3 linked regions of the Homo sapiens genome follow. The protein of the gene in region 1 purifies or fractionates together with the protein of each later gene. This does not show direct contact. Each region holds a gene or a part of one and is shown in the gene's direction. Other genes may lie near its edges.

The links.
Region 2: the proteins of SLC9D1 (region 1) and ADCK2 purify together in Homo sapiens (affinity purification with mass spectrometry; 2 studies listed by BioGRID and IntAct, with this or other methods). This does not show direct contact.
Region 3: the proteins of SLC9D1 (region 1) and CUL4B purify together in Homo sapiens (affinity purification with mass spectrometry; 2 studies listed by BioGRID and IntAct, with this or other methods). This does not show direct contact.

What each region holds. Positions count from the first base shown.
Region 1 is NC_000013.11:113,546,510-113,550,162, forward strand, and holds part of SLC9D1 (transmembrane and coiled-coil domain-containing protein 3 isoform 1 precursor), read left to right. Parts: intron 1-790; coding exon 791-870; intron 871-1,793; coding exon 1,794-1,943; intron 1,944-2,915; coding exon 2,916-3,029; coding exon of another isoform or gene 3,030-3,043; 3' UTR 3,044-3,653. UniProt on the Homo sapiens protein: Probable Na(+)/H(+) antiporter.
Region 2 is NC_000007.14:140,689,915-140,692,900, forward strand, and holds part of ADCK2 (uncharacterized aarF domain-containing protein kinase 2), read left to right. Parts: intron 1-845; coding exon 846-899; intron 900-2,986. UniProt on the Homo sapiens protein: The function of this protein is not yet clear. It is not known if it has protein kinase activity and what type of substrate it would phosphorylate (Ser, Thr or Tyr).
Region 3 is NC_000023.11:120,554,310-120,557,962, reverse strand, and holds part of CUL4B (cullin-4B), read left to right. Parts: coding exon 1-39; intron 40-3,653.

The sequences.
Region 1 (3,653 bases):
AGAGAAAAAAGGCCAGTGTTTACATTTGTGTTTCTGGGTCAGGTAGAGACAGTGGTTTGTGAACGGCAGAAAGGTCATGGGCCTGCTCCGTGCACCTAACCCTGGGGTCTGGGTCCTTCCGATCAAGAGGAGGCCTCTGGGCTGCCGGGCTTCCTCCGAGGGCTGACATGCATCACTGGGCAGCTCCAGGCTGTGGCTGGAGAGCTGAGCCCAAGCTCAGGTCCAGCCCCAGCACCGCCGGCCCCTCTGCGTCACTCGGCAGCACAGCAGGACTGAGCAGCCCAGTCCGAGAGTCCTGAGAGCAGAGAGAAGAAATATGTGGAGACAACGTTTCCCATTGTTTTTAAAAATGTGTGAGCCAAATAAAGGAAGGAAAGGAACATTGACCACAGGCGTCCTGTGAGCGTGGCACTCCTGGGCACTCCTGGGCACTGTGGGGCTGTGGGCTCTGGGATCATCTGCACCTCAGCTGGAATATTTCCTGAAGGAGTGCCAGACCGAGTGCCGCCTCTGTGTGTTTTGCTGTGTCCTCTGCAGTTGAGGCCTGTTGCAGGGAGTGGAGCTGGGATCCCACCACATCAGACAGGTCATCCCAGGGCAGGCTTTTCCCCGGTTCGCTCAGGAAAGGGGCGGCTTTTTAGCATTTGCTGTTGCTTTCACACGTGCACTTGGGAGGATTTAGGATTTTAATTCCTGTATTGAAGCAAGTGACACACTGAAGTTGTGAGAAATAGTGTGCGCTGGGGGAGGCTGTCCTGCGGTCGTAACGTGTCTGTCCTGTTCCCAACAGGGCTCCACGTGTTCCCCACGTTTGTGGCGTACGAGCTCACGGTGCTGGTGTTCCTCACCTTGTCAGTGGTGGTGATGAAGGTATGGACTGGAAGGGTCCACGCCCCTCGCAGTTTGCAGGCTCAGCATAGCCCTCCCTGTGGCCCTGGTTTCCAGTGGGGCCCACATCGGGCCTGCAGAGCCGGCCCTGCTCCTCATCTCGGAGGAGGCCCACTGGGCCACTGGACCCCGGGGGAGGCAGATGTAGACGAGGCTGGGCGGTCTGGGTTTGTCCATGTGATCGATTGTTTCAGAATTGAGCGTGTTTAAAGGGGGGAACTAACCTTTTGGGACCCTCAGGACGGGCCTTGGCTGCAGTCCAGCCCGTCCTCCTCTGACAGATGCAGACATGCTTTTTAAAGACTGGAAAATGGTGTAGGCACTTTCTGTCTGTCCCCCGTGACTGCCAGTGATCGAGCTGCCTGTGTCCACATTTAATTGAAGGTGTGATGACCTAGTCAGCAACCAGTGGCTTTCTGGCTCATAGACAGTGACTTAGGTCATTTCCGTTTTAAGGAGCCAGAAGCTGTGATGATCGTTGGACCACTCCACCAGCTCTTAGCTACTCGGCCCAAAGACACACCACCAGCTCTTAGCTGCTCGGCCCAGAGACACACATCTCTCTGTATTAAAAAGAAATTTCCACCTTGAGTACCCCACGCTTAATGCTATTAATCTAGTTTGGTTGGGGCGGGGGCGGGGGGGCTTGGGCAAGGCTTATTATTTTCTGCTAATGAACCGAAAGGCTTAATTTTGCCTTATTGTTCAGTGTGGATTATTTAAGAGGTTTTGCGTGTATTTGGTGCCTTCGGGTGTTTGGAGTGCTTCTGTGCCTTTCCCTACTTGACGTGTTATTCAGGGACCATCGCAGCGTGCCTGTGGCTCGTCTGGGTTCTCTGTTTCGTGTGTGTTTAACTCTGTGTGGGTCCAGTCTTCAGCAGTGACGTAATGAACCGCTCTTGCAGTTTCTCCTGGCGGCGCTGGTCCTGTCTCTCATTCTGCCGAGGAGCAGCCAGTACATCAAGTGGATCGTCTCTGCGGGGCTTGCCCAGGTCAGCGAGTTTTCCTTTGTCCTGGGGAGCCGGGCGCGAAGAGCGGGCGTCATCTCTCGGGAGGTGAGTGGCTTCCCCCCGCGGAGCGCTTCTCGGGCGGCACGGGCTGCACTCTGGGTTTGAGTCGGGTGTGGCGAAGGCGGCTCGGCAGCACAGCGGGGCCTGGGGGCAGGGTCCTCCTCCAGGGGGGCACGCAGAGGCCTGGCTGCTCTCTGCTCATCCAGCATGTGGCGTTTTCAGAGGAAAGTTGCAGTTAGTACTGCTTGAACTATTGCATTAACCTTTTACAACAAGTCTAATTAAATGTCAGATATTTCTTCTGAAAGAAAACTAACTTTTTAAAGCTGAACTGCCAGTGTGCACATAAGTAGCACCCCAGAAACGTGAAATACCCGTAATGGCAGTGTGCCCGGAGAGCTGGGTGGAGGTTCCTGTGGACACTGAGATGGCCCTGGGCATTCGGACTCACGGCCTTGTCTCCTTGCATTGTGTAAGTGTGAGGCGGGTAGAAGTCCAGGTGTTGAGTGCAGTGGAAGTAATTGCTGAAAGGTAGAATTGCTTACAGGAAGCTCCACCTGAGGCCTGACCCAAGGCCGCATCCCCAGGGTCAGGGAAGCTGTGGGGCAGGCTGGCTTGTTACTGTGGCCCGGGGTTGGCCTTCAGGCAAACACAGGCTAAAGCTGTTATCCTGTGGCCCATCAGGACTAACCATGCATCACTGATCTTGAAATCACAGTCTCTCCTACATCCCAATGTCCTCAGCTTCTGGCTGTACTTCCATGTGCTTTAAAGAGATAGTAGTGAATTTATGATGTGCAGGCGTCCCTCCCAGCACTCGGCATGACCGCGCTTAGCTTCCATCCCCCACCCCCCCGTGCAGGCATCCCTCCCAGCACTCAGCGTGACTGTGCTCAGCCTCAGGACTCTAGCTTTGCAGGCGTCCCTCCCAGCTCAGTGAGACCAGCCCTGTGCTTTCCTGTTGCAGGTGCTAGTCCTGACAGTCTCTGTGACCCGCTCTGCACTTTGCTGTTGCAGGTGTACCTCCTTATACTGAGTGTGACCACGCTCAGCCTCTTGCTCGCCCCGGTGCTGTGGAGAGCTGCAATCACGAGGTGTGTGCCCAGACCGGAGAGACGGTCCAGCCTCTGATGGCTCGGAGATGATGGACCGTGGAAGGGAAGCGTCTGTGGGGAGTGAGCGCTTAGATGGCCAGCAGCTGCTCCTTCTGGGAAGCTCGCACCTTGGCAACAGAACAGCCCTCTAGCAGAGCGTCAGTGCAGTCGTGTTATCCCGGCTTTTACAGAATATTCTTGTCCTATTTTAGAATTTTCCGGAGTAGTTTATTTGCAGTCTGTTGATTATGTGCAGTAGACCCGGGACACTGCGTTTTACCGATCACCTTGAATGTGGTGCCTGGATGTGCCTTTTTTTTTTTTCCCTGAAATTATTATTAATTTTCTATTGTGAGTTCATCAGTTCATAGTTTTTTTAGTAAAGAAGCAAAATTAAAAGGCTTTTAAAAATGTACAACTTCAGAATTATAATCTGTTAGTCAAATATTTGTTATTAAACATTTCTGTAATATGAAGTTGTAATCCTGGCCGTGAGCTTGGAAGCTTACTTTTGATTCTTAAAGCCTATGTTTTCTAAAATGAGACAAATACGGATGTCTATTTGCCTTTTATTGTAACTTTTAAATGAAATAATTTCATGTCAATTTCTATTAGATATATCACTTAAAATATTTGGTTTTAAATCACAAGAATATGTATT
Region 2 (2,986 bases), on another chromosome or scaffold:
GGTGCCACTTAGGAGGCTGCAGCTCCTTCCTCATCCAGGGGTCGCTGTTCATTTGGGGACAGCCAAGCATACAGGGAGGGAGGACTGTGGTCTCCAAGCAGCCAAATGATGTGCCCAATGCGCATGTCCCTTATTTAAACCCAAGCCAGAGCCTGCTTTGTATTTTATACACAGTTCTAGCAAATGTGACTGTTTTATCCCCAAGTTCATGGCCACATTAGCAGGAATGGGTCAGACAAGGAGTGGCCACTGGCACGCTGGCCCTGCTGATAGTCTATCCAGGTGTGATTTTTTAAAAATTTTTTTGAGATGGAGTCTTGCTGTATCACCCAGGTTGGAGTGTAGTGATGCTGTCTCGGCTCACTGCAACTTCCACCTCCCGGATTCAAGCGATTCTCCTGCCTCAGCCTCCCGAGTAGCTGGGATTACAGGCACCCGCCACCACACCCGGCTAATTTTTATATTTCTAGTAGAAATGGGGTTTCACCATGTTGGCCAGGCTGGTCTCGAACTCCTGACCTCAAGTGATCCGCCCGCCTTGGCCTCCCAAAGTGCTAGGATTATAGGCAGGTGTGATTTTTGTGGTTGCTTCAGGGATGGGGTGGGTGGGGCTCAAAGGCTTGTCTTCCAAAGGCCTCTGTGACCGAGTCTTGAGGTGGAGTTGGGCTTGTGCTGGAGGAGTCCTTTCAGAGTTTGTCAGATGGTCCCTTTTGTGCTGACTGGTGTATGTGTGCCCTGGCGGGGGAGTGGGGTGGGATGCTGGGGCTGAGAGTGTGGGGGTGGTGGGAAATGAGCGGTTCTGGAAGGCTCGGTGGTCTGCATTAGCCTTTATTTTGTTTTTCCAGCTTCATGTGTCCAGCCTTCTCTCTAGTGTCTTTAAGTTGCTGATGACTCACAAGGTGAGGGCCATTCAGAGGGGAGGTCTCTGGGGAAGGTGGGACGGGGCAGGGAGGAATGGGAGGACACAGGGTGGTGGGAGGCGCTTCTATTATATGGTTCTTGTTTTTTGTTGTTGTTTTTCTTTTTTTTGAGACAGAGTCTCACTCTGTCGCCCAGGGTGGAGTGCAGTGGCGCGATCTCGGCTGACTGCAGCCTCTGCTTCCTGGCTTCCAGTGATTCTCTTGCCTCAGTCTCCTGAGTAGCTGGGATTACAGGCTCCCACCACCACGCCTGGCTAATTTTTGTATTTTTAGTAGAGACGGGATTTCACCATGTTGGCCAGGCTGATCTCGAACTCCTGACCTCAGGTGATCCACCCTTCTCGGCCTCCCAAAGTGCTGGGATTACAGGCGTGAGCCACTGTGCCCGGCCTATTATATATTTTGAAAGCATTTTTAGTAACAAGCCATTTGCAACAAGTGCTTCGTAGCTGTTAGTCTATCTGTCAAGTCAGTGCAGTCTAAGTATCTGTGACATTTAAATGTAGAAAAGTGTATTTAAAAATGTAGAAACAGCCTACCTCTGGCTTTTCATGTCTTTCCCTCCTTGGTTCACTTTCATGATGCTTGTGTTAATGTAAGTCATGCTTAGCTCTTTCCTGGTGGAATGAAGTCCTGGGGTCCAGAGGCCGCTCTAGAGGGTCATGCCTTGTGTCCTGGTGCTTTCAGAGGCCCTAGCGGGACTGCTGTGGCCCCTGCCTGGCTGCTGTAGTCCATTAGAGGGAGCTGGCCTCATGGTTCATCTTAGCCTGTGCCCCGGCTCTGTCGCCTTGTCATGGAGCCTAGTCTCCGGCACTCTTTAAACTAAGGCTGCTGGCCAGGGACAAGCAGTGTTGAAGGTGGAGAAGGGAGGACCTCGTTGGAAGATGGCCTTTTCCATTGCATTACTTAACTATATGACATCTATTAGTAACCAATTTATCCCCTCAGTCTTCCAAGAGGCAGGCACCAAAGCCGAGAGGCCGAGCAGCTCACCTGTGGCCATGTGGGCAAGCCCCCGCCTGCTGCTGGGTCCTCCCGCCTCCGTGGCTCACTCTGAGCATCTGCTCCCCACACAGTTTCCAGCACGGTGGGTGAGGGGCCTTGAGTGTTTGCTGCTGCTGCTGCTGTTCCCAGGATGGAAGAGGAGACAGAGGGCCTAGGGCAGCTACTGCACTCCAAGCACTTCACTAGGCACTTAAGTTTGAAAACATTTACAAATTTTTCATTGTGATGAAAAACACATAAAATTTAACCCCCCAACCCTCTCCAGATGCATAGTGTTAGCATTGTGCAACAGATCTCTAGGTCTTTCTCATTTGGCAGAGCTGAAACTCTACAGCCATTGACCAGCTCCCCATTCCCCTCTCCATCCGGCCCTGGGAACCACCATGCTGTTTTACGTTTCCATGATTTTGGCTACTCTTGATATTTCATATAAGTGGAATTATAAAGTATACTGTCCTTTTGTGATTGGCTTGTTTTACTCAATATAATGTCCCCAGGTTTCATCCATGTTGTAACATGTGACAGGATTTCCTTTTGAGACAGGGTCTCACTGTGTCACCGAGGCTGGAGTGCAGTGGTGCAAGCTTGGCTCATTGCAACCTCTGCTTCCTGGGTTCAAGCAATTCTCGTGCCTCAGCCTCCCAAGTAACTGGGATTACAGGCAAGTGCCACCATGCCCAGCTAATTTTTGTATTTTTAGTAAGAGATAGGGTTTCGTCATGTTGGCCAGGCTGGTCTCGAACTCCTGACCTCAAGTGATCCACCTGCCTTGGCCTCCCGAAGTGCTGCGATGACAGGCGTGAGCCACCGCGCTTGGCCTGTTATTCTGTTGATGCTGTTGATGTTCACGTGGGTTGCTTCCACTTCTTGGTTATAGTGAATAATGCTGCAGTGAACATGAATGTGTAAATATCTTTTCAAGATCCTACTTTCAAATTTTAGAAAAGTTTTAAAAACATTTAATGTAGCCAGTAAGGTCTATACATTGTGTTCTTGCTTTCCAGTTTTTAAACATATGCCCCAAAGTAGGTTTTCTGGATCATATGGTATGTTTTTAGTTT
Region 3 (3,653 bases), on another chromosome or scaffold:
AGTACTTCAATTAAGTACAATTTAGAAGAACTCTACCAGGTATGTATTAATATGCATAACCAGATTTGATTAACATAAATTGAGGTGGGATGTATATGGATTTTGCTTTCTGAAATAGGTTCTTAAGTAGACTTTTGGTTCCCTTCTAATTTTAGTTTCTCCATTAATTGATGAACTCTATAATTAGACCACGTATTCTCACATAAACCATGGGTACAGTCATACCAGTATAAGTTGTGCTTATATTTGACCCTCCTGATAAGAAATTACAGTTACGTGTACCTTGGTGTAATAGAAGTTCTACCTATAATGTAATCCTATAGCATGAATCCCAAAGATGATTTCTGGTGACATGTCATTCTATTGTGATAATTGTTTCTTAGTTGTGTTACCTACCCATAGGAAAGGCCTCAAGACATGCAGATATTATTCATATCCTTTATTCTACCTCCTTCTTAATAGTAGACTTTGCCATTTCTTTTTCTTGCTCTTTACATTTTTCTAATACCTGGGCTACAAGACGCACCTTAGCCCAGAAATGAGTAGCAGTTTGTAGTCCAGCAGCTTAGTCTGAGGTTCAGATTCTTTACTTAGCAAATGGGTCCTTACACTTAAATATAATTTTAAGGGCAGTTCCTAAGGGCAATCCCTTGCTACCAAGAAATTTTTCCCTACTGTGTATTTGACACACAACCAATTCAAGAAGTTACTTTCATTAGAGTGTCAGGGATTTGGTGTTAAAAGATACTTCAGGCCGGGCACGGTGGCTCACACCTGTAATCCCAGCACTTTGGGAGGCCAAGGCTGGCAGATCACCTGAGGTCAGGAGTTCGAGACCAGCCTGACCAACATGGAGAAACCCCGTCTCTACTAAAAATACAAAATTAGCCAGGCAATGTGGTGCATGCCTGTAATCCCAGCTACTCAGGAGGCTGAGGCAGGAGAATCGCTTGAACCCAGGAGGTAGAGGTTGCGGTGAGCCGAGATTGCACCATTGCACTCCAGCCTGGGCAACAAGAGTGAAACTCCATCTCAAAAAAAAAAAAAAATATATATATACTTCAGAGTACAATAGCTTGAATTTTTGTATTGATGAGTACCTTGTAAGAAATTATGTTGGTTTTATTTATCAGTATTTGTATATTTTAGTTGCAGAGCTAGTATGGTGATGGGTAAACCTGGATTAGGAGTCAGAAGATGGGTTTGGGATCTAGTTTTGACTGCTGTTACCCTCATAATCTTGGGCCAGGTACTAAAGCCCTCTCAGTTTTTTTTCCTGTTTTTTTAAGAGATAGGGGTCTTGCTATGTTGCCCAGGCTGGTCTTGAACTCCAGGGCTACAGCAGTCTTGTCACCTCAACCTCCCAAGGTGCTGAGATTACAGGCATGAGCTACCAAACCCAGCCGTCACTCTCAATTTAAATTTCCTCCTCTCTAAAGTAGAGGAAATAATAGTTTGCCCTACCTGTCTCACAAGGTTGCTGATAAGAATCAAATAAGATATTTGTGGAAAACGCCTCCAGGCACTATAATCTTACAAATATAAGATGGTATCACGAGTCAAACTTTTTTACAAGCCACATTATAGCTTCTTCACTTGTAGTATGACAATTGAGATCACCAGTTTCTGTTGCTGTGAAAATTAGTACACGCAAAATACTCAAATCAGTGCACAACACATAGTAATAATGCCGTGTAACATTATAAGCATTATAATGCTATGCAAATGTCGGCTAGTAGTTGTAGTACTAAGCTATTACTTAAGAATAAGCCCATTTCATATGGCTCTTTTGGCGTATTATATATGCGTCTCTTAAAATGTACAACAATAAAAGCCAAAATATGAAACTGACTTGGAAAGGCCTTAAGAGAGCATGTGGTCCAATATTTTTTCTTTGTGGTGTCCATGACAGCCTGCAAAGGGGATTCATCTCGTATTATCTCATATAAGCATTATGGAAACCCTTTCTGGGGTACGTAGGGTAGTAGTTACTATCCCCACTTTTTTTTTTTTTTTTTTTTGAGATGGAGTCTTGCTATGTCACTCAGGCTGGAGTGCAGTGGCGTGATCTCGGCTCACTGCAACCTCCACCTCCCGGGCTCAAGTGATCCTCTTGCCTCAGCTTCCCAAGTAGGTGGAATTACAGGCGCCTGCCACCACGCCCTGCTAGTTTTTGTATTTTTAGTAGAGACAGGGTTTCACCATGTTGGCCGGGCTGATCTCGAACTCCTGACCTCAAGTGATCCACCCGCCTCCACCTCCCAAGGTGCTGGGATTACAGGTGTGAGCCACCGCGCCTGGCCTATCCCCACTTTATTGATGAGGAGACTGAGTCTCAGAGAAGTTGAATAACCTGCCCAGAGTCACATATTGGCAGAGCAGGGGCAACTCAAACTGAGATGCTGGATTTCTAGTTCATTGCACTTTTACTCCTGTACCACCTCACTAATATACCCTGGTACTTTGAATACCACTGTAGTGCAGTGTTTGAAACAATTAAATTGTTTTACTTTAGGGAAAAAGCTCTTTATAATTTTAGTAGTATTTTTATCTGTGCATGCATAAGTGGTGTTTATTTGGATAGTATATGGTGTTTATTTGGATATGCTGGTATACAGCATATTTAATTTCAATAATATTTTATATATTCCATATTTGTAACAAATGTTTATTGTGGTTATTAATTAACCCTATTTACTTTACCTTGAATATTTTTCCAGAGCTTTTGATTTGAAAATACTTTTCCTGATACATTGATTCTGTTAAATCTTTTTCTTTCAAGAGCATAGAGCTTGCATCTCTTGTTTTTGTTTTCTTGTACTTCGTAAGTTTTACCTGCTGTTGTTCAGTTGCATTTCTTTAGCCTAGTCACAAGTCTTATAACTTCACTGTTTGCATTTTTCATAATACCTTACTGCTTTTGCTATAATGAATTCAAAAGCATTGGTTTTTAGCTCTTTTACTGTTTTTGACCTTAATTTTATAAATGTTCCTTTGGATTGTTCTCAGAAAGATTATTTTGAGATGTTCAAGTTCAAACAGGAGGATAAAGGAGGTAAAGCTATTTCATATAATCTGGACTTCAGGTGCTTGTTTGATTTTGACTCATTGAAACGTAATTAGAAGTACTCTCTCAATCTACCTGAGTGGGAAATAAAAACATAAGAAAAAGTACTCTTCTAAAATTGAAATAATGTGGAAATATGTAGTTATACAAAAGTTCTCCAAACCCCTGTCCCACCCTCTTTCTCTGAGGTAAACACTTACTGGCATATATCTGCTTAGAACTTACTTCTGCATGAAAAAACATTTTGCTTTAAAGCTTTAAGTATGGAAGTCCCTAGTGTGGGTTGCATGTACTGCCTACTAAGTTTTTAATTTCTATAAAAGAACATGCTGTTCTAAGTACACTTGCAGTAAGCAAACATTGTCTTTTTAAAGTAATTTTAAATTAGAATTGGACCTGAGTTTTAAAATTATCTTTCCTTGACAACCTTGAGATCCTGTGGGTGTGAGGCAGTGATTAATGTTTTCATTTGACTGTTTTGTTTGTTTGCGTGCTTGTTTTTAATTGACTGCAAATAAGACTGATTAAATGCACTGACTTTTGAGCTGTCCAGCCTGCCTTAGGTTACAAATCTGTCACTCATCAT